6 linked regions of the Homo sapiens genome follow. The protein of the gene in region 4 purifies or fractionates together with the protein of the main gene of each other region. This does not show direct contact. Each region holds a gene or a part of one and is shown on either strand. Other genes may lie near its edges. The genes, in order: WDR1, SLX4, HMGN5, C11orf58, KYNU and CHORDC1.

The links.
Region 1: the proteins of C11orf58 (region 4) and WDR1 fractionate together in Homo sapiens (co-fractionation; one large-scale study listed by BioGRID). This does not show direct contact.
Region 2: the proteins of C11orf58 (region 4) and SLX4 purify together in Homo sapiens (co-immunoprecipitation; one large-scale study listed by IntAct). This does not show direct contact.
Region 3: the proteins of C11orf58 (region 4) and HMGN5 fractionate together in Homo sapiens (co-fractionation; one large-scale study listed by BioGRID). This does not show direct contact.
Region 5: the proteins of C11orf58 (region 4) and KYNU fractionate together in Homo sapiens (co-fractionation; one large-scale study listed by BioGRID). This does not show direct contact.
Region 6: the proteins of C11orf58 (region 4) and CHORDC1 fractionate together in Homo sapiens (co-fractionation; one large-scale study listed by BioGRID). This does not show direct contact.

The regions. Positions count from the first base shown.
Region 1 is NC_000004.12:10,076,181-10,078,862, forward strand, and holds part of WDR1 (WD repeat-containing protein 1), read right to left. Parts: intron 2,513-2,682; exon of another isoform or gene 2,431-2,512; intron 1,747-2,430; coding exon 1,573-1,746; intron 1,269-1,572; coding exon 1,124-1,268; intron 1-1,123.
Region 2 is NC_000016.10:3,580,483-3,584,147, forward strand, and holds the end of SLX4 (structure-specific endonuclease subunit SLX4), read right to left. Parts: intron 3,029-3,665; coding exon 2,615-3,028; intron 2,212-2,614; coding exon 1,860-2,211; 3' UTR 699-1,859; downstream 1-698. UniProt on the Homo sapiens protein: Regulatory subunit that interacts with and increases the activity of different structure-specific endonucleases.
Region 3 is NC_000023.11:81,114,914-81,118,413, forward strand, and holds part of HMGN5 (high mobility group nucleosome-binding domain-containing protein 5), read right to left. Parts: intron 1,429-3,500; coding exon 1,291-1,428; intron 318-1,290; coding exon 1-317. UniProt on the Homo sapiens protein: Preferentially binds to euchromatin and modulates cellular transcription by counteracting linker histone-mediated chromatin compaction.
Region 4 is NC_000011.10:16,737,241-16,741,480, forward strand, and holds the start of C11orf58 (small acidic protein), read left to right. Parts: upstream 1-1,406; 5' UTR 1,407-1,538; coding exon 1,539-1,601; intron 1,602-2,315; exon of another isoform or gene 2,316-4,240.
Region 5 is NC_000002.12:142,876,331-142,880,617, reverse strand, and holds the start of KYNU (kynureninase), read right to left. Parts: upstream 2,955-4,287; 5' UTR 2,882-2,954; intron 1-2,881. UniProt on the Homo sapiens protein: Catalyzes the cleavage of L-kynurenine (L-Kyn) and L-3-hydroxykynurenine (L-3OHKyn) into anthranilic acid (AA) and 3-hydroxyanthranilic acid (3-OHAA), respectively. Has a preference for the L-3-hydroxy form. Also has cysteine-conjugate-beta-lyase activity.
Region 6 is NC_000011.10:90,199,929-90,202,989, forward strand, and holds the end of CHORDC1 (cysteine and histidine-rich domain-containing protein 1), read right to left. Parts: intron 2,948-3,061; coding exon 2,885-2,947; intron 2,624-2,884; coding exon 2,477-2,623; 3' UTR 501-2,476; downstream 1-500. UniProt on the Homo sapiens protein: Regulates centrosome duplication, probably by inhibiting the kinase activity of ROCK2. Proposed to act as co-chaperone for HSP90. May play a role in the regulation of NOD1 via a HSP90 chaperone complex. In vitro, has intrinsic chaperone activity.

The sequences.
Region 1 (2,682 bases), on a different chromosome or scaffold from region 4:
GAGATTCAGCCCCCACCCCTGCCTGGCACGGCATACATCCTGATGAAGGAAGCCTTGGCCTGCGGGTGGCACAGGTGCCCAGGAGCGCCTTCAACCACCAAGCATGACTTGGCTGTGAGGCCAGGCTTTAGCACTCTGTCCACATCACCAGGCTGGCTCTTTTCCAGATGCAGAACTCAACTATCTGCACGAGAACCCGATGCTGAGGTCACTTCATGTTTGGTGGCCTGTGACCTCACAGTGAAGACACAGACCCCGACCTCCTAATCTCTATCTGACTAGCTCTTGCTGTATTTTTTTCTGGATCCATTTCATTCATGAACTTGTTTGATTCTCACTACCAGACTGGCGATTGCCTTATAAACCAGGACGGACGTTGAAACCTGCTTTGTCTCTCCTCCCTTCCAGACCGGGCTGCCTTCCCTCTTTGCCTGTCCTGCACCTGAAGCCTGCAGCTGGGGAATGGGCTCTGGGGGTGGGCTCAGACATTTTTAAATAGGAAAGGGCCCCATTAATGTTTAACACAAAAGGATGTCTTCAAGGAGAATGGATGAGGGGACTTGACTACACACTAGGAGGAGAGTGGTAGGGGGGCACTCGGGGAGGGGAGGGTTTGGACAACACAGAGCTGCCTTACAATACGTGCATGGCCACGCGGGGACATCACAACCCCCTCAGGGAGAAATGATGACATGCGGGGCTAAATAAAACCTACTGTTACAAATCATTTCACCTGTTTCTTTTTTAAATGTGGCTACCAGGAAATTTCAACGCCACATGAGGCTCACATTATACACTGGACGTGGCTGTCTTAGGGAGGGGGAGACCCTGGTCCCAGGTGGGATTTAAGGGGTGAGTGGGGGAAGTGAAGATGTCAAAAGTGAGGCCTTCACTCAGCTCAGCAGGTGTCCTGTGCATGGGGCCCCCGTGGTCCCTCAGTACGGCCAGCAGCGCAGCTGGTGTTTGCTGGATGGAAGGAGACCCACAACTCTTCCGGGCCACCTGTCTAGAAGCACAGAGGCTACTTAGCCCTGGGGACTGAAGCCAGGGGACAGCCTGTGAGGTGGCCCATGGAGCCCCGAACCATGGGTGGTCCCTGCCAAGGCCTGGGGGCGGAAGTCACCTTGGATCTTGACTCTGGTTTCCGGGTCACTCAGGGTCCAAACATACACCATCATGTCCATGCCACCGGAGGCAAAGTGTTCATTGTCTGGGGACCAGGCCAGGCAGACGATTTTTGCATGGTGTCCATAAAAAACATTGTTCTCCTAGTTGCAGGTTGAAAACAAGAGAGGTGGCAGGTCAGGTTCAGGCCGCAGTTGCCCATATCACCTCGCTTATCCCTCATGGCGACAATAAGGACCGAGGTTTCTCACGCGCTAACTCTATGCCAGCGACCCCTGCAAACCCACTGACTCCTCAGAAGCATGGCACGAGGCACCTGCTACTTGTAGAGGCAAGAAAACTACAGCTCAGACAGGCTCAGCTCAAGGTCACCAAGTCACAGATAACCTCCCACTGCCACCTGCACCGCCCAGCACGGGGACAGAGGAGGAGCCCGCCGCCACTCACCGAGTAGCCGTCAGCAACGCTGAACACTGTGACCACCTTGCTGGCGTCGCACACCGCGAGGAAGGCGCCGTCGTGGGAGTAGGCCACGTCGGTCACGGGGCCCTTGGCCTCTAGGAGCTTGCCCTCATCCTTCAGCGTGGTGCCCAGGATGGAATACAGGCGGACGTTGCCGTCCTACGGCAGGGACAGAGAGGAAGTGAGCCACCCCTGAACACACACACCACACCCATCCTTTGTGAAGGGGGGGTCGAGGGCTTAAGAAACTGTGCCGTTCCCACTGACTGCTGCTCTGCTGGGCCCATGCCAGGAGCTGGGCATGGCTCTTCCCGTGGATGGGCCTGAAACCTACGCAGCTCTATGAAAACAGCTGTTGGTACCTCGGGGCACCGCTGGTCTCATGAGGCCCTCAAGCTGGCTGGTGGAGGAAGCCACTCCATGCCCTGGTCACATCCGGCACCTGAAGGACCTGGCAGCACATAGACCCACCCAGCCCCTAGCATGGAGGGCACTGCCACGCCTGCTGCAGGACTGGGTTATCAGAGGGCTGCCCTCCTGGGCTGGAGAGGGGAAATGAGCTCTTCTACAGAGCACTCAGGACTTGGCCAGGCACACTGTGACCAGACCACACACACAAATTCAAGGGCATGAGAATTATGCCGAGGCAGAACTCAAGGGAAACTGTAAAATGTCTGGTTAGTACCGCACCTTGAAGATGCTGGGAAACTTCTGTCACTCTTCCTTCAACCTGTGAGCCGAGCCCAGCCCCAGGGGATGCCATTCCTTGATTTCCTGACCTGCTACCCTCTTGCGCTCCCCTCCTGCCGCCACTCATGGGGCTGGCTCTGAGGCACAGCTGTGCCCTCCTCGGCACTCCCTCTACCTCACTGTCCACAGTCTTGTGGGCACCCGGGCAGTGAGGTGGGGGAAGTGCCGAGGAGGGGAGGGGAAGGCTCCAGCCCTGGGTGGCAGGAGATGGCGTGGCTGGGCCCCAGAGCAGGTCCCACGCCCCGACTGCCCCCATCCTTCCCCTGACCCCTCGCCTTCCCTGAGACAGCCCCGGTACTCACACAGCTCACACTGTCCCCAAATCACCCAGATACCAAGGACAGA
Region 2 (3,665 bases), on a different chromosome or scaffold from region 4:
CAGGGAGGGGGATCAGCCCATCAAGGAAGCAGTGCGTGATGCCTTCCGAAACAGGCCAGAGGCCAGCCTCAGATTGATCACAGCTGATCTCAGCCTCTCAAATTGTTCGCCCCGGGCACCGTAAGCTGGGAGGCCTGGGCCTCTCCGCTGGTTCACGTGCCAGGACATAGTATGTGCGCCAGAAATCACATTTCACCCCCTAAATGCTGCTGAGCCCTAAGATGCAGCTCACAAACCCCTCTTCTGGGAGGCTGTCCCTGACACGGCCCTTCAAGCCACTGGAGCCCGACTCCCCACCAGGCTGGGATAGGCCAGCGTCTGTCTCCTCCACTGGACCGGACGCAATGGTAAAGGCATGTGCTGTCTTGGTGAGTTGTGGGGTGGGGCCTGAATCTGCTTTTGTAGCAACTCCCGGCTGAGGCAGCAGCTGGGGGTGCTTGGGCCCCACTTTGAGGTGCGGGGGCTGGAGCTTGGCACCCAGCCAGGGCTCTGTTGGATACGGGTGTGTGGATTAATGGATGAACATCTGCATCTCTGGTCTGGGAACTGAAATGAGGAGACAGCAGGCCCAGGTTACTCCAAAGTAAAGGGCAGGTGCAAGGTGGGGACTTCTGCAGGCGTGGGGCACGGGCTGAGGGGCCACGGTGCCTCCAGGTCCCCCGTTTCGCTCGTGGTCTCCCTGGAGTGTGGCAGCCAGATTTTAATAAAGCCTTTTTGGTTTATTGCACATCATATAAAACTGACTGCACTGTATTTGAAACAGACGAGGACATTCACAAGGATGGAGAAACCAAGGTTTCCTTCTTTCCTGGCCCTCATCTTCCTCCACACTGCTCCTGAGGCTGGAGGCAGCTTTAACCCAAAGAATGGAATCCGCTAGTGAACATGTTTGTTTTGTGGTGGCATCAGAGTTGTTCTGGGCCCTTGTGCACTGTCCAGTTTGGAGACTGCTGGTAACAATGACAAGTGTCCGGGTAGCACGGCTGGGTCAGGAGAACTGCATCTGGGCTGTGGCAGTGCAGGGAGCCTCAGGACACCTGGTCTCAGGCTGGCGGTGGCTGGGGTTGGCCTGAGTGCTGAGGAGGACGGGCCCGGGCTGCCGGGGCAGGCTGGACCTGACGTCCATCTCAGGACAGACATGTAGGGCAGCTGTGCCCAGGACTGGTGGGCTCAGAGGGTGGCAAATGTGGCAGAATAGGCCATGCCCTGGCCAGCTGGTGATGGCCCACTGCCCCCTGGGACAGCTGAGGGCCCTCTTGGGTTAAGGGAGACACACTGGGCCGGGCGCAGTGGCTGGCGCCTGTGATCCCAGCACTTTGGGAGGCCGCAGCAGGCGGATTGCCTGAGCTCTGGAGTTTGTGACCAGCCTGAGCAACATGGTGAAACCCCGTTTCTACTAAAATATAAAAAATCAGCTGGGCGTGGCAGCGTGTGCCTGTAGTCCCAGCTATCTGGGAGGCTGAGGCAGGAGAATTGCTTGAACCCGGGAGGCGGAGGTTGCAGTGAGCCGAGATTGTGCCACTGCACTCCAGCCTAGGTGACACAGCACGACTGTCTCAAAAAGAAAAAAAAAAAGAAAACCAAAAAGGGAGACACACTGTGAGCACGGACAGAGGAAGGGGCTGGAGTCTGTAAATCCAGTGGGTGACATGCTCCAAATGCCACCCTAGAAAGCAGAGCCCAGAGGAGGAAGCCCTGGATTGGGCTGTGGTCATCATCACAGCGCAGAGCTGATGTGGTCCCCAGGCCCAGAAATGCCTGTGGAGGCCTGACCCACGCTGGGTGTCCCAGGTCCTCCCTGCAAATGGCGGGGGTGGGGGCTGCTGATGGCAGGTTGGGGTGGGGTCGGGATGGCCCCATCAGTTCCGCTCCACCTTCTTCTTGCCCCGAGGCTGCCGCCTCCTGCCCTGGAGCTTCTCCCTGCGGGTGGCGGCAGTGGTGAAGGTGATACAGTGGGTGTCCAGGAAGTCCAACAGCCTGCGCGAGGACACACGGAGGCCGTTCTGCCTCAGCTCTGCCTGCAGCTCCCGCAGCTCAAAGGGCTGGTACAGCAGCACCTTCTGGTACAGGGCCGGCTTGGAGCGGATGTAGCACCTCAGCGCCTCGTCTGTGTCCGCCGCCTGCACGGCTGCCTGCGAGGCACTGACCTCCCCCTCGCCCTCCTCTTCACCTGCAGACTCAAATGCCGCTCCAAACTCACAGGAGGAAGAACTGAAAAGAGCCAGACCAGGACGTTGTGCAACCCCTTTCTCTCCAGCCCCTGAGACCATGAGCCTCTTTAAAGGAAGGAAGGTGTCTACGGGTCCCATGGAGCCTGGCCTGTGGCACGATCCCCAGCAAGGCAGGACGGGCCTGAGAGATCCCTGCAGGCTACGCCAGCGGGATCCTGCCCCAGCCAGAAATGTCTAGCATGTGGGGCAGGAACCAGGAGGCCTGCGCAGGGCTGGGGTCAGGGAACCAGCCCCCTAAACCCACCTGGTTTTCCCACAGGTCAAACCCAGAAGGTGACGGGGGTTTTTGAAGATTGGCCATTAGGTCTCACTCGTGCCAACCCTCACGCCCACGGGCCAGAGGATACATGAGGCCACTGACCCCATCGCATCCATCCGGTTACCTCTGTGAGCTCAAGGAGCTGTCACTGCCATCCACAGAGGTGGCCACGGATTCTTGAGAGGCTGGGATCTGGGCGTCATCATTGAGGCCTGGAGGTGCCTCCTTGGTGGGCGACCTGCTTGGGGGTGTGATGCTTTCATGATGCTTCCTTTGATGTCGGGGGCCCTTGGTCTTAGCAGGTCCCTTGGGCCTATGGGCCCCAGGTCCTGTGGTGGCCTCCTGCTGGGCATGGACCCCTGCCCTTGAAGGCTTGTAGGTCTGGGAGGCGAGGGTCTGGCAGTGAGGCGCCTGCAACAGCGGCTGTGAGGACTGGCTCTCGTCCTCGGAGTCTGAGTCCAGGGTCTGGTGAGTGTACTGGAATATCTCCTTCAGCTTCAGAACCATCTGGCGTTTAGGCAGAGGGCGGACTCCAAACCTGACGGAGGAACAGGTGGATCTCAGGACCCACCCACACAGCTGGTCCACACTCCACGTTCCCTATCTTAGCAAAGAGTGATACCCAATGCATTCAGCGAATGGCTTGTGTGACAAACCATAGATGCCTGACTTCTGTGAGCATCAGAGGTTAGTGTCTATTCTAGGCGCCAACTAAGCTTACTCTGAATATTCCAAAAGAAACATTGCCAGCCAGGCACAATGGCTCACGCCTACAATCCCAGCACTTTGGGAGGCTGAGGCAGGAGGACAGTTTGAGCTCAGGAGTTCAAGGCCAGCCTGGGCAACATAGCAAGACCCCGCCTCTACAAAAAATACAAAAATTAGCCAGGCGTGGTGGTGTCACCTGTAGTCCCAGCTACTAGGGAGGATGAGGTAGGATCGCTTAAGCCCGGGAGGCTGAGGCTACAGTGAGCCAAGATCACATCACTCTACTCCAGCCTGGGCAACAGAGTGAGATCCTGTCTCCAAAAATAAAAAATAAACAAAAGATATGCTGCTCCCAGTTCTGAGGGATGGTGGCAGCAGCAGCTTCCCCGGGTGCCCGAGTGGAAGAGCAGTGTCATGTGGATGTGAGAGTTAAATGTTCTTTTAAAAAAAATCAGGCCTCCGCCGGG
Region 3 (3,500 bases), on a different chromosome or scaffold from region 4:
TCTTCTCCTTTCTCTTTTCCATCTTCTCCATTTCCTTTTCCGTCTTCACCTTTTTTTCCATCTTCTTTCTCTTTTGCATCTTCTCCTTTCTCATTTCCATTTTTATCCTCTTTTCCATCTTCTTCCCCTTTTTCATCTTTGTCTTCTTTTCCAGCTTCCCCTTTCTCTTCGTTTTGATCTTCTTCATCTTCTTTCTGATCTTCTTCTTCATTTTTTACTTCTGCTGCCACTGCTTCTTTCTTTTCTCCTCCCTTTTCTGTGGCATCTTCAATATTTTCTTCTTTTACTTCCACAATTTCTTTTTCAGAAGCTGGTGCCTGTAAGTATAGTGAAAAGAAAAACAAGATTCTGTCTGTAAATTTAGAACCATTTCCCCTAAATATTTACACTGGATTATATCTATTTCACAGAAAGACTAATACTTCATTTAAAGAAAGTAATTTTCCTGTGAAAGAAGCCTGCTAAATATCACATTATGAGAAAACATTCTAAGAAATGAGATTAACTAAAATATGTCCACGGAAATATCTACAAATAGATATTTGAAACAATAAATACAGAAACACTTATAAATACTTTTTATTTCAAATATGAAGAAGCACAAAGTAAATACTTAAAGGATGACATATATTTATTCTGTATCAGCAATTCTTAATGAGGACTATGCATGTAAACAAAATATAGTCCTTGGAAAATAACATATTTTGTTTCTATAATAATGATATTTTTTATGTAAAAATTACTTGAAAAGTACTGTACCAGATATTATAAGATAACTTACAAAAGATTTTCCATATTTGCATATGTTTGGTTTATAGATTTGGTGGCTACACCCATTTTCAGTGTTTTATTACAATACCTAAAAATGTTGTATGCATTAAATATGCAAAATAAGATTAAAAACATTTATATAATGATTTGCTTTGCCATCCACAGAGGAAATAAAAGAATCATAAATTCTGGAAAAGGGATTTACAAATAGCCTGTGTGCTGATAAAAGGAATAAAGATTGGCTTGTATTTAATAAGAAGGTTGTTATGTTAGTACTAAGTCATAATCATTGGCATTGTTCTAGTAACAGCAATGCTAAGCCACTGCTCGCACTACTGGTCCCTCTAAATTCTCATATTTTAAGTTAATTTTATTTTCCTCTTAGATACCATTATACTATAGAACCACTGCTCACTTAATTTTTTTCCAACTTATAAACTAAAAGGCAAATAGGATTTCTTTCAGTTGTACCCATTGTTAAACTTTCAAATAGATAAAACTGTTAACATTAGAAAATACCTCTGTAATTTTGGCTTCTCCATTTTTAGCATTTTCATTGTAGTCTTCTTCAACAACTGCTTCTTGCTTGGTTTCAGCAACTGCTTGGGCACTTGTATCTATGTTTTCTTCCATCATATCACTTTTTGTCTTCATTTTCTGCCAAGCAATATAAAACAATGAAAGTAAATATACAATTTAACTGCTGTGTTGATTAAATGGTCACAATTATTTTACCAGCTGTTGTAATAATTTATGCAAACTCTTTAAAGTATCACATATAAATCTGGTATCAACAAAATTATCATATAATATCTTCATTGTAAATTTCATTGTAAGCCTAAAGCAGGATTAAAAATGAACAATGTTCCCTTGATATAAACAAAATAAATTTCCTTTTAAGTTGAGTGATATAGATGAGAGGCAACCAGTTAGAATGCTGACTAGTTGCTGCCAAGGACAAACTGCTGGCATCAGGTTAGACTGATCAATTAATTCCCTCTGTCTAGAGAGGGTCAGTTTATTTCTGTCAAGTCTAATTAATAAGGAACAGGGTTTTGTTGATCGTTACGCCTCCATTGGTAATAATTAAGAGAAATGCTGTTAGTGAGAACAACAATTTAGATATATTTTTAAAAGACCTTATGGTGATGTAAGTGTTTCAATCTTTGTATCTACAAGTTTGGAATGCCCTGATTCATGACGACTTCACCAAGAAAATTTTTGCCTACCTGTGTATGTAATAGAAAGACCACTGGATTGAGGGGCCGGAAAACCTGTGTTTGAATTCTAGATCTGCCACTTATGTGATGTGATCTTGAGCAAAGGCATAAGTATCTTTGAGGCTGTTATTTTCATATATAAAAAGAGAGTAATACCACCCACCTCACGGGGATGTTACAAGGAGAAAATGAGAAAACACATGAAAAAAATGCTTTAGAAACTGTAATTTGTAATTTAGATATAAGTTATTACTCTTTTAACACATGAGAAACAGAGCCAAGGAGGGTAAAGTCTATGGTTATATAGTATATGTTTTAGTCTAGCCCTATTTTTCTTTTCTTTTCTTTTTTTTCCGTTTTTTTTTTTTTTTTTGAGACAGGGACTCCCTCTGTCGCCCAGGCTGGAGTGAGGCAATCTCTGCTCACTGCAACCTCCTCCTCCCAGGCTCAAGCAATCCTCCCACAACAGCCTCCCAAGCAGCTGGGACTACAGGCATGCCCGGCTAATTTTTGTATTTTCTGTGGTGATGGTGATTTTCTATGTTGCCCAGGCTGGTCTCAAACTCCTACGTTCAAGCAATCTGCCCATCTCAACCTTCCAGAGTACTCAGATTACAGGTGTAAGCCACCACGTCTGGCCTTACTTTTCTTTTTAAAAGAAAATATGCTGTATTTACTGTTTTAAAAACTAGTAAGTTGAATATTTAACCTTATATAATAGTGGACTTGAAAAGTAAAATGCAGAAAAAAAAACCTTCTTTTCTTTTGTCACCATTAAATATATCAATTATTACTAAAACTTCAATTTCCCTAAGTTTAGCAATATTTTTTAATAAAGGATTTCATTTATGAACATAATGACAGTTTATACTTTCTTCAACTACAAAGTGATAGGATTAGATGCTCTCTAATGTTTCTCATAGCTTTAACCTTTTATGATTTCAGGAATTCAATCAATATTCTTATGTATTAAGCAATTAGCAGTAAACTAAATATTGAGATTATATCTATTTCTACATGCCTTTAGCCATAACACCAGAGTATATAAGTCCATACAAAATCAATTGTGTCCATTTAAAATTAACATATGCAAATACATCTTACATATATTATATATATAATTATATATAATCTTATATACTTTGCCAACTGTAAAATATTATCAAATGTTAGTTACTACTTTTATTACAAAGCACAACTTTGGGGTTACTACTGTTTTCACCTTTTGTTTTCCCAGGGAAACAGTATTGTCACTATATGATAGCAAAGGCATGTACATTTAATGGGCCTATCCAACTGAAATTGTTTTGTCTCTACCCAGTGAAAATGTCAAAACACTGTGGACAATCACAAAACAGAACAAATAATCCCCACCCAAGGGGTTTACATGTATCATATGATAGAATATAATATATTACTAACTGAACAAAATATAAGCAAAGTAAAATGATCAGCTGTATGCCATTTCAAAAATTATTTTTGAAAAAAAAAGCAAATTTATTTCAATAT
Region 4 (4,240 bases):
CTGTCACCCAGGCTGGAGTGCAGTGGCGCCATCTTGGGTCGCTGAAACCTCCGCCTCCCGGGTTCAAGCGATTCTCCTGCCTCAGCCTCCCGAGTAGCTGGGATTAGAGGCATGTGCCATCATGCCAGGCTAATTTTTGTATTTTTAGTAGAGACGTGGTTTCACCATGTTGATCAGGCTGGTCTCGAACTCCTGACCTCGTGATCCACCCGCCTCAGCCTCCCAAAATGCTGGGGATTACAGGCCTGAGCCATGGCGCCAGGCCTAATTTTTGCTTAAAAAAAAAAAAAATCACATTTGTATTCAAGGTGAGAAAGCTTCAGAATTATTAAGGACAAGGATTCTGACAGAAAGTTAAGTTCAGACCTGGTTACAAATTCAGACACCTTAATAAAGTAGGAGATAGTCTTCAGTATCTGAACAATAAATAGCTTTAAATGCAGGGCTTTTTGAGTAGAGGAGTGATCACTTGAATCTGGAGAGAGGGCGAGAAATGGGGAGGGATTGCTAACGGGCATTGGGGTTCCTTTTGGAGTGGTGAAACTTCTTGGAATCAGAGGTGACAGCTGCACACGATTGTGAATGTACTAAGTGACAGTGGATTGTACACTTTTTAAAAAATGGTTAATTTTATATGTGAATTTAACCTCAATAATTACTTTTTTTAAAAAAGAAAAAAAATAGAGGCTTTTGTGGCAGGGATGGACTTTGCTTGGTGAAGGCCCCTACTGTAACGGTGCCCAGACATCCACAGCGAGGTCAGTGAGGAGCACTCCCACCTCACACAAAGCCATATGAAAACTTAACAGATTTCCCTCAGCTAAATCCCCGTTTTCAACAACCGCCAATTAGCCAACATTTAACAACATACTGAACTCATTTCTGTATGGGAAAACAGCGAAATATTCATGAAAACATTTAGAAAGCAGCATCACCGACCACCTAGAAATCCCCTGCGCGCAATAGAGAACACCAGGGTGGAAATGGTAGAAGCCATTTTTGGTTAAGGTTTTTGTCCTGGGTGGAGGGTATTCGTGAGGATTCAGTCAGCCTCAAACATTACATTTAAACATAGGTGCCTAGCTACGATGATACATTTGCCAGTAGGGCAGCGTTGCACGGTGAAAGGCAAAAACCCCTCTAAGCCTCCTCCTGTGGCGACAAAGCTCTCGGCCAACGCTCACCGCCATACACATCCGCGGGAACGCTTCCTCCACCAGCCGAAGGCGGGGCCTCTGAGGGCACTCCCGCCACACAGCGCGAATTGAGCCTCGGGGCTTCCTGGGAATTGTAGTTTTAGTCACGGACACATCTTTTTTATTCGGGCCAGTATGCAATGAATCAGAAAACTACAACTCCCAAAGTGCCCCGGGGCGGCGAGGGGCCGCAACGGTGACGACTGTGGCAGAGAAGGCCCGGAGGGGCTCTGCGTTCTGTAGTGGCGCTGCTTGGGCCCTTGGCGGATTGTAAGCTGCTGGTTTTGCGGCTGGGAAGAGCGGCGAGAGGGTTCGGCATTTTTCGTCGGGATCCCCGCAAGGATGAGTGCTGCCAGAGAGTCTCACCCGCATGGGGTGAAGCGTTCAGCCTCCCCAGACGACGATGTAAATAATAATGGCGGAGTGGCTGAGGGTTGAGGCCTACTAAAGCCTGGAGTAGGCCGGGAAGGGTGGTTGGAGGAGGACGCGCCTGAGGTGGCCTGCAGCGGGAGAGCCCAGGGAAGAAACCAGAAGAATGAGTGGGAAATGCCTCCCTTAATCTTTATGAGGGTCAGAAGGTTTGAAGAGGCCCACACGCTGAGAGCCGGAGACCTGCGTAGGAAGGGGGATTGAGGAAGGAAATTCTGAGAGGGTCGAGGAGTGAAAGAGCTTAGTCAAGGGATTTCGTACGTGCGTTTTGGGGGGCCGATGAGAGTGCTTTCTCGGGCCTTTGTACTCAGTATAGAGACGGCAAGACTCTCCCTGTTTTGGGTTCTAAATGTTCCCGTGACAATGTCGAAATGTTCGTGCACGTTTGTACAGATTTTTCCTGCCTGGATGATTTTTACAATGTGCTGTTGAGAGTTAACTTTAGCTGCACTAGTAAGGGTAAACCGAGAACAGTATTGAGCCGAAAATTGTGCCACGGGTGTAATTTGGTACTGGCTCTGGTGGTGAGGTCTAAGACGTTGAGACCTAGAAGCCCATTTTGATGTCGGATATTAATACCTCGTTCTTCTTACCTCGTCTCCCCATCAAATGCCGTTCCCTTCCTCAGCCCTCACCTCATAGGTTTTAATAGCAAACGGTTTATCCCTTAAAGTAACCCGTTAAATATTTACTGCACTGCCGGGTGTTGGGAATTCGGAGAGAAATATGATGCTTATTTTAGGCCTTTTTGTATATTTGTCCTAGCTCCTAGCCCAGTGTCATGGAAACGGTAGGTAACCAGTAAACGTAAAACTAGGTCCTTCATACAATGGATAAGTGTCTTGGCAACGTTGATGGGGAAAATTGTTGGAGAGAGCGCGGAGAGGTCATCTTTAAGGAAGATGAAGGGATATCTAGGTTTTTTTTCGGTTTTGTTTAAAGTACTGTCAATTTCTGAATACATAGAGCTTTAAATTTTTCGATAGTGCATTTCAACGCTCTTCATAAAATTTTAAAAGCCCACTGAATACTACTTTGTAGCAAATGAGATAATGTTAAGACCTACCCCTCTGATGGGAGGTGGGGCGAGGACCGGAATATTAAGGATCTTTAAAGGAATCGACTTCAGCTCTGCAGAAAGATTAGCAATCAGTAAAGATTTGGGGATGAATGGGCACCTAGAGAAGTTTATTCTTGCTCTCTGTTATTTCTGCTACTGGATTTTAGATCTTGTTAATATGGTAATTCAGGTTTTGTCAGGAATTGATCCACACTTTTGAGTAACCTGGCTGCCACTTAAAAAGCTGTTACATTGTTTTCCTCCTGATCTTTAAATGTGACTTGATTGCTAGGATATCAGACACCTGTTTGGAAATATCTTTTAGCGTGACAGAAAACTCCAGGTGATATGAAATTTAACAAAGTTAAAGGGATTAAGTCATTAAGTTTACAGCTTCGGAAGAGGTCGGTTTAAACTAGACGACCTTGAAGACCTTTCCCAATCATATAAGCGTATCTTTAAGTACCTGGGTTTTGTTTTTGTTTTGAGACAGGTGAGACAGGGTCTCTGTCGCCCAGGCTGGAGTGCAGTGGCACGATCGATCAGTGCTCCCTGCAGCCTCCACCTCCCTGGCTCAGGTGATCCTCCTGCTTCAACCCCCTCTTCCCCCACCACCACTACAGTAGCTCGGACTACAGGTGTGCACCATTACACCCGACTAATTTTTTGTATTTTTAGTAGAGACCAGATTTTGCCACATTGCCCAGGCTGGTCTCCAACTACTAGACCCAAGCGATCTGCCCACCTCGGCCTCCCAAAGTGCTGGAATTACAGGTGTGAGCCACCTCGCCCAGCCAGTACTTAAAAAAAAAATTTTTTTAACCATAAGTAATGCATTCATTAAAATACCTCCAAGCTGTTGCAGAAAAAAAAAAAAAAACTAGCAGGCCGGGCGCGGTGGCTCACTCCTGTAATCCCAACACTTTGGGAGGCCAAGGCAGGCGGATCACGAGGTCAGGAGATCCAAACCATCCTGGCTAACACAGTGAAACCCCGCCTCTACTAAAAAAATACAAAAAAATTAACCGGGCGTGGTAGCGGGCGCCTGTAGTCCCAGCTACTAGGGAGGCTGAGGCAGGAGAATGGCGTGAACCCGGGAGGCGGAGCTTGCAGTGAGCCAAGATGGCGCCACTGCACTCCAGCCTGGGCGACAGAGCGAGACTCTGTTTAAAAAAAAAAAAAAAAAAATCTAGTTATAATATATAGTTGGGAAACAGTTTCTAATGAGCATCCACGGTATGTGAGAGATCATTGAAGTTTTCTTATGCCCATTGACCTCACATCTAATTGAGGTAACAAAACATTTTTTTACTATTAAAAGTAGATACTAAATCACAATACAACTCTAGAAAAACGCTAACAATGTAGGAGTAAATTCTAAGAGTCACCAGGTTATGTATTGAGGAGGTAAATTGATTGCAGTTCTGTAGTAAAGGGTATTAAGGATGAAAACAACTTAAAAGTCGTTTCATTGGCTTGGAGTGGAGAAATGAAAGCTATCTTATAGGAAGTGGGAAGAGTGGGGAGGTAAATTTTAGTAACTGCTAAGGAACTC
Region 5 (4,287 bases), on a different chromosome or scaffold from region 4:
TTCATTCAGTTAGATACAGGAGCTAGAATTTAAAATAATCATAGATAGAAGCTATGAAATGCTAGGGTCTAGGAGGAATACTGTCATAGAATGACTCATTTTTCAAAGTAAAACAGAACCACTGATTGTTAAAGCATGAAAAGCATGAAGTGATTCCAGCAGCAAGTAAGAGTCACTTAGTTACACAATGGCAAGGGATTGAACAGCTATGTCTCCTGAAAAGGTGACAAGACAAGCCCATCTTGCAAGTCACTGAATCCTTCATGCAACATGCTATGTGCAAGTCTCCAGGGGACCCATCTTCTTGGCTATTCCTAAAATTCCATGAGATGTTTTTCTGCCTTACTATCAGATTAGTCTTACTACAAACATATTACTGATGGTAGCTGGACTGAGTTGCTGTTCTACCCTACTGAACTGAACTCTACCTGGGGGCCTGAATCATGTTTAATTTATCTTTATAGACATCTCATTTAGACAGAGTACCCCTGCCGCCAAAGTGGCAGTTCGAGAGAATAAACAAAATTGGTTGATGAATTATTTGACATAATGACATATTACTAGAAGGGCACCCTCTCTCATTCTGACCATATGAGAAAGACTTAGACAAACATTTCTAATGAAATTCAGAATCAAGAGAGCTTGCCTTATATTTGAGACTTTCTTTGGGAGGTCAGCCCTTTGAGTTGATTGGAGGTGACTTTAAACTCTAAGTGGGGTTACTTAAATAAAGAGATTAGTTTGTTACCAACAGATTCTGAATAAAATTCAACTTTCCTTATTTTAAAAATGATACTCATTAGCGTCATTCTATCTGTATCTTATTTAATGCTTGTAATAATCCTGAGGCATCAGAATCCTTTTCCTCTATATTGAGATGAAAACCTGGCACAGACAGAGTAGAAACCAGTGGACTAAAAGGATAGCAGAGTGCACAGTAGGGTACTTAACCATGCCTGAGATGCTGAGTCCATTGTGCTGGTCTTTGGCAAAGCCCATGAATGGAATGCACAGAGCTCAATTCCTCCTCGAAGCCTTGAACCTCTCACTTTATTTTTCCTTGCCTGTTGCTTCCTGATGTGTGTGTGTACGTGTGTGTATTTCTTCAGCTCATTCCCTTTTTCTTTGGCTTCTTTTTTCAGTCCTACACTTAAGCTGCAAAGGACCACAAGCTACGTATGAATTGATTTACCTTTTTAATCCATCCTTCCCAGTCCAGTTTCAGCCAGGCAAAAGTTAAAGTGGCTGGTTCCGCTCCTGGGCCTGTCACATCTGGGGTACCTTGAGATACCTGATGGGCATAGTCTTCCAAATGACTGCACCCTGCCCTACTCCACCACTTGCACAACTTCGCATGGTCTCAAATATAGTCTTTAGTTCCCAGAATAGCATAGTGCACTCACTCTAAGGATGCAATTTATTCACTCATACTAATTGCTGCTTAATTCTGCATTCACCCCAGCAGCTAAGACAATTAGTGTTCACAAGCCATAATGTTATGCCATGTTTAGTTTGCAAATAAAGTGACATGCTCATATTCTGAAAGGAAGAACTTAAATCCAAACTTTTAAAAACTTCAACTTTTACATATTTTACAAATTTTCAAATGTTACATATTTAGTGTTAATTTTATCAAGACGGGGGACATACATACCATATGGTCTCAGACAAATCACCTAACTGCTCTGTATGTCAATGTTATTTAAAGTTAAATTTTACTTTCTTCAAAGGATTATGGTTAAGCTCAAATGACATTAGGTCCTTTATAAAAAGATAAAAGATAGTTTGTAATATTTTTTTAAATTATCAATACCTTCTGATGGACAGCATCAATGTGCCTTCGATTTAGGTTTGGAAATTGTGCTTTCACAATTTTATTTAGACAGCTACAACTTTAAAGTAAAAAGCTTGTATAATAATTAAAAACTGATTGATTTTAACGAAATCACAGAATTCAGAATCTCCTAGTCACCCACTGATTTAGGGCTAAATAGTTAAATAAATGACTGAGTGTCTGGTAGTTAATCTTTACACAGTTTCACATTCATGCCTGAAATAAGCAAATTGTACATAGGAGTTCAAAGTTTAGAACCTGACTTAAAAATATGTTGAGAAAGCGTGTAGTTTTTCATTAGTAAAGAAAAAAGGAAAAACAATATGCATATTGAGCAAGATTCTTTAAGCATATCATTGAGAAATGGGTAACATTACTCTGCTACGAGTGTATATTTCATATCTAGGATATGAATTACTTGCTGAACACGTTAAGAAAATCAATACATTTGCTTCAGTGTTACTACTAAATAACACCCCACTGGCCTCAAAATAAAAGCAGAAAGGAAAAAAGAAAATCTAGTATATTTTTAAAAAGTGTATCAACTTTCTTTTCTTAGGTTTCATAAAATGAAAGGGGAAGAAACTCTGTTCAAGAGTAGGCATTTTCACTTCTCTAAATAAATATTTAATATGACTACTAGCAGCATAAGACAATTAAAGTTACCAGAAAACAGAGGACTTAAAATCTGTTTAAGAATATCTTTCCCTCGTCTGGAGTTTGACCTAATCTTACCGCTTAAACTCAAATAAGAACAGGACTAACTTTGGTTTGTCAAATGTAACCATATTCAGTGCACTATGTTCATCAGTTCTTTTCTATTACATTAGTAAAGATCTTTTCATTTAACCCATTTCTAAAGGTGGGGCCTTTAGGAAGGTCATACCATTTTTATTTACAAAAAGAATATATATAAAAAAAGAAGAGAGTAGCAGAAAAAAACCTCTAAAACACTATGACAAGGATTCTAGCTGACAGAAGTTTCATTTGGAAAAAACATGGAGTAAACATTAGGGTAGAGAGTTTTTATCAGCGCCTCAAGCTTACCAGCTAGGATCCCAATGGAGTGTTTGGCTCCCAGAATCTCTCCAAGAACCTCTCAAGAATTCCTTGAAAATGTACAGGCCAGATCTTAGGGTGAGAAATTCAAAGAACTGCTCAGACTCCACCCAGTGGAGAATTTATAAATATTTTACTTTACTTCCTCTCCCCTAACCAATCGGTAATCTCCAGCCACTGTCAGAAATTTAAGCAACATGTGCTCCTGCCCACCATTTCAAATGCCAGAGCCTCCAGTGAGGGCTTCTTTCCAGAGGCAACTTTGCTCTTTAAACTCAGGTAAACACACACTTGTCCTTTAACTATATAAATCTCTGACCCCTGAACTGATGAGTTGGTCTTAGAGCTAAATTCCAAATTTTGCCTTTCTTCTTCACTTTGAGCTCTGGATTTTTGAGACAATACCCTCCTTCAAATACACTGAGGATTTTCAGTCTGATGGTTGAATCTATGACATTTAATGGGTAAACTTTTTAGTCAAAAGTTTAAAATAGGCTCTCAATTCCAGAATACACTCTATTGCCTAATATGTGAGTTTTCAAAAACTCCTAGGTAATAAATCTGGACAGTTAACAAGACAATGAAGGAAGAAAGATCTGAAGATTCAAGTGGAAACTAGCCTGGCAAACTTCATTAATGCAAATTATTCATTTAAGTCTGTGAATTGTCTTTTGTTCTAGTCTGACTACCTCTTTAGGCTTATTCCTGAGCTTGGGTCTTTTGATGAATATCCTTGTAGTTATAAAAACTAAGAGCAAAGACTTTCGATATTAGGACTAGGGATGAAGAATGTGCTTGAATAATTGAATGACTTATGCACACCTATGCTTTATTTAGTAACCCACAACAAATCAAGTAAAGTGTCATTTAATCATTTCTATCAAGTGTTCATTGTATAACCCTGAGCAATTCACTTAACCCTTGTGGAGGCTCAGTCTCCTATTTATCAAATGAACTTAATAATACCTTCCTCCCAAGATTACTGAAACGATAAAACCATGCAGGTTGAAGGCCATAGATACCATGACACTCAAGTCAAAAGTGACATATTGTCTTTTTTTTAATCTTAAGTAACCAGACAAAAAGTACTACTCTCCAGTTTCCAAGAGAGGGAGATAAAGTGCATGAAATTGCTTTAATACGAGTAATTGACCAGTGAAAATAAAATATATTTCACTTCATTGATCCTATCCTTACAATAATCCTATAAAGTAAGTAGACTACCAATTGATTAACTTAGAATAGTAAAAGTTTGAATCCATTCAGGAAATTTCAGAAGGTGTACTTTTTTTGCATCTATTCTGTGTATGCCTCATGCTGTAAAAACTTTGGAAGATTACCAGGCTCTAATATATGGGGAGCGAACCAGAGGGCGGATCTGTGTCATTTTTGTG
Region 6 (3,061 bases), about 73 Mb from region 4:
CAGTATAGTTACACCAAGAAGTTACATCTTCAACCTATAAACATTTGTTGATTCCTAATCATATCTTAATTGTTTATAAATTACTGGCTTAAATTATTACCAAAAAAGTAGGACAAGTCTTAAGACCTTGAAGAATTCCACTAAAAACAGATGGTAAAAATAAAATGTTCTACTTTAGTTAATAGTATTATACAAAGGTTAATTTCTTAAGTTTTATAAATGTTCTATGATAACGTAAGATTTTAACATTAAGATTAATATAAGACATAAAGAACTGTTGTATTTTTACAACTTTTCTGTAAACCTAAAACTAGGTCAAAGAAGTTAAATAAAGGCTCAGTTTATTAGGATCTTACTTCCTTTATACTAGTAAATGTGCTATGAAAGAAAAATAGCATTTTAGGTTTCCCATCTTTAGTTACCAAGTATATATATAATATACCTAACTTTGACTGCTTTGCTATAGTAATTATTTTTAATGCTAAAAAAGACAAAGCAAATTTCTAGAGAAATAAATCAATAAGCACTTTTTATTAACTTTTTTGACAAACCGATAGTAAAACATATGCTACCTAACGATAACTGTGTCCCTTTATGTATGAGTCTAAGAGAAATATTCGGATTTTTATCTGGACAAGAAATTCAAAGGCTCCTTAAGAAGAAAGTAAATACCATGGTCACTAATGTAACCAGACTAAATATAAAAGCTACATATGTATGTGTGTGTGTGTGTGTATAAATCAATGTTTTGATCAATGTAACTAATCTGAGGTTACAATAACTCACTGCTTCAAATAATATTTCAATTACATGTAACAGATTAAGATACTGTTTAGGGGAAAACAGCCTCAGAAGGAAGTATGAACAAAAAGGGATATTAATCATTACCTTTAATCAAACTAATTATCAACCTTTCCCCCAACCCATAAAGACTTCATGTCTCTAAATGGTTCCTAAATCATGGAAGATAACTTGAAAAATTTTAAATACATCTCCAGGTATCAGATGCTTATGTACTCCATGTGGGTCCAACTTTTACTGCCCAGAGTTTCTTGTCATGGTAATGTAACATCATGAAAGTCTGGTTGCCAGATCTTTATGTTTTTATTTGTAACAGAGCTAAACCTTTTAACAATTATATTAACTACAACTAAGTTATTTGCTAATGGTAGTAGAATGATACATATGTTTTATTCACGAAAATAGTACTTCTGCAAATTTTTCTTTGTAAGAATTCCATAAATACCAAGGAAAAGAAAAGACTCAAGGGGTTTGGGAAATAAACCCCTTTTAATTTTAAATCTACATAAGTTTAATTTATTCCCAAACTTTCTAAGTTCTTCCAGAGTTCTGGCCTTCAGAATATTTCCTAATTTTTCTTCTTGAGTTCTGCACTAACTCAAAACCTATCCAAACGATCTAATTCTGTATTACCTATATTTAATATAAAGTACAATATATAGTCAACATTGTATCACTAGAATTGTGAAGCTCTTCATGACTTTAAAAAAAAACTCCAAAACAATTAAGCTATTTTTATTTAACATGTAATAGTCATAAAGCAACTCCATATATTTAGTTTTCTGATATCCTAATGTATTTCCACAAACCTTTTAAGTCTACAATTTTATATAGTTTTCCATCAGGGAGGCAAGATATATATAATTTCTTTTTATATTTAACTAAAGGTTTTAAGAGGGCTTAGTCTCTAAATCAGTAACAATTAGTCATAACACCATACAAACACATTTAAATATTCAGGAAAGAGGTTGTTAAGATTATTGCTTAGTCTTATAAAATGGTGAATTTTAACCAAATTGATACCTCTGTAATCTTATTTATGTTTCCTATAACATCATACTGCTTGGCAAGTAATGTAAGTTTTGACATAATTTAAAAATTCAAGTAGTTGTAAACAAATTCTAATTTGTTAAACAATTCATATATTCCCCTTTAGTTACTATACTACCTCAGAATTAATCCTCCTTAAAAAAGTAATCATCCCACATAGAAAAAACTGCAGAGCTTCATCTCTTCCTTAAATATTTTCAAGTACTGTAAGAACACAAATCCATGAAAAAACTGATTAAAATTTGACATTTCATCTTGCTTTACTAATTATGGAATAATACAAAAACATAAAAAAAATGTTCCTTAATATTTCTTTGCTTAACAGAGAAATACAAAGAAATACTGCAATTATGGTTATGGGCTACTTTCCAGCCTCTTCAAGTATAGGACACAACTATGGTTCCTACCAGTAGGGAGAAATGAATAATCAATCTTACATAACACAAAAGAAAGATGAGAGGCACAAAAAGACAAACTGACTTTGGCTTTTAAGAACCTAATGTTAACCCTGAAATGCCACATTCAGTAACACAACAACAAAACAAAAGATTACAGCAGCAAGCCACCACTTCACACAGTATTAAAAATTCGGAAATAATGTAATAGCCTTCCTTCCATCTCCCACTCAATCTGTTGTGGCATCTTTTTGTTTTTCCTGCTTTTTAGCTGCAGGCAGTTCAAGGCTTGCCCACTGCATCGGTTCAGCTTTTCTCATAGTGATTTCAATCTTTGTTGCAGTCATAGTTACATAACTTCGCTTTACATCAATCACCTGTAACATATCAAAGAGAATTACAGGAAACCTCAGTAGTTTTATTAGTCTCAGAGGAAAACATCAGACTTGCTTATGCCAATAATCCCAAATCCAAGCTTCTAAAGGCCTCTTTTATATCTAGTCTTAAACTTTTTGGTAGGATACACTGTTAAGTTATACATCTATACTTTGCATCAATGTTTACTGAAGAATTGTCTTTTATTCTACAAATGATCTAAGTTATCAGAAAAAAAATTCTTATAAATTTGTAATACTTACACCCCATAATTTCACATTTTGATCAAATTCCTTCTCTCCTTCAAATACAATATGCACATTTAACTGAAAAAGATATACACAGTTAATTGATCTAATTCAAACTGAAGATTTATGCTATCAAACACTGATTATAAAAATAAGACTGACAAAAATGAATTAAGCTATTTTAAGAAACTG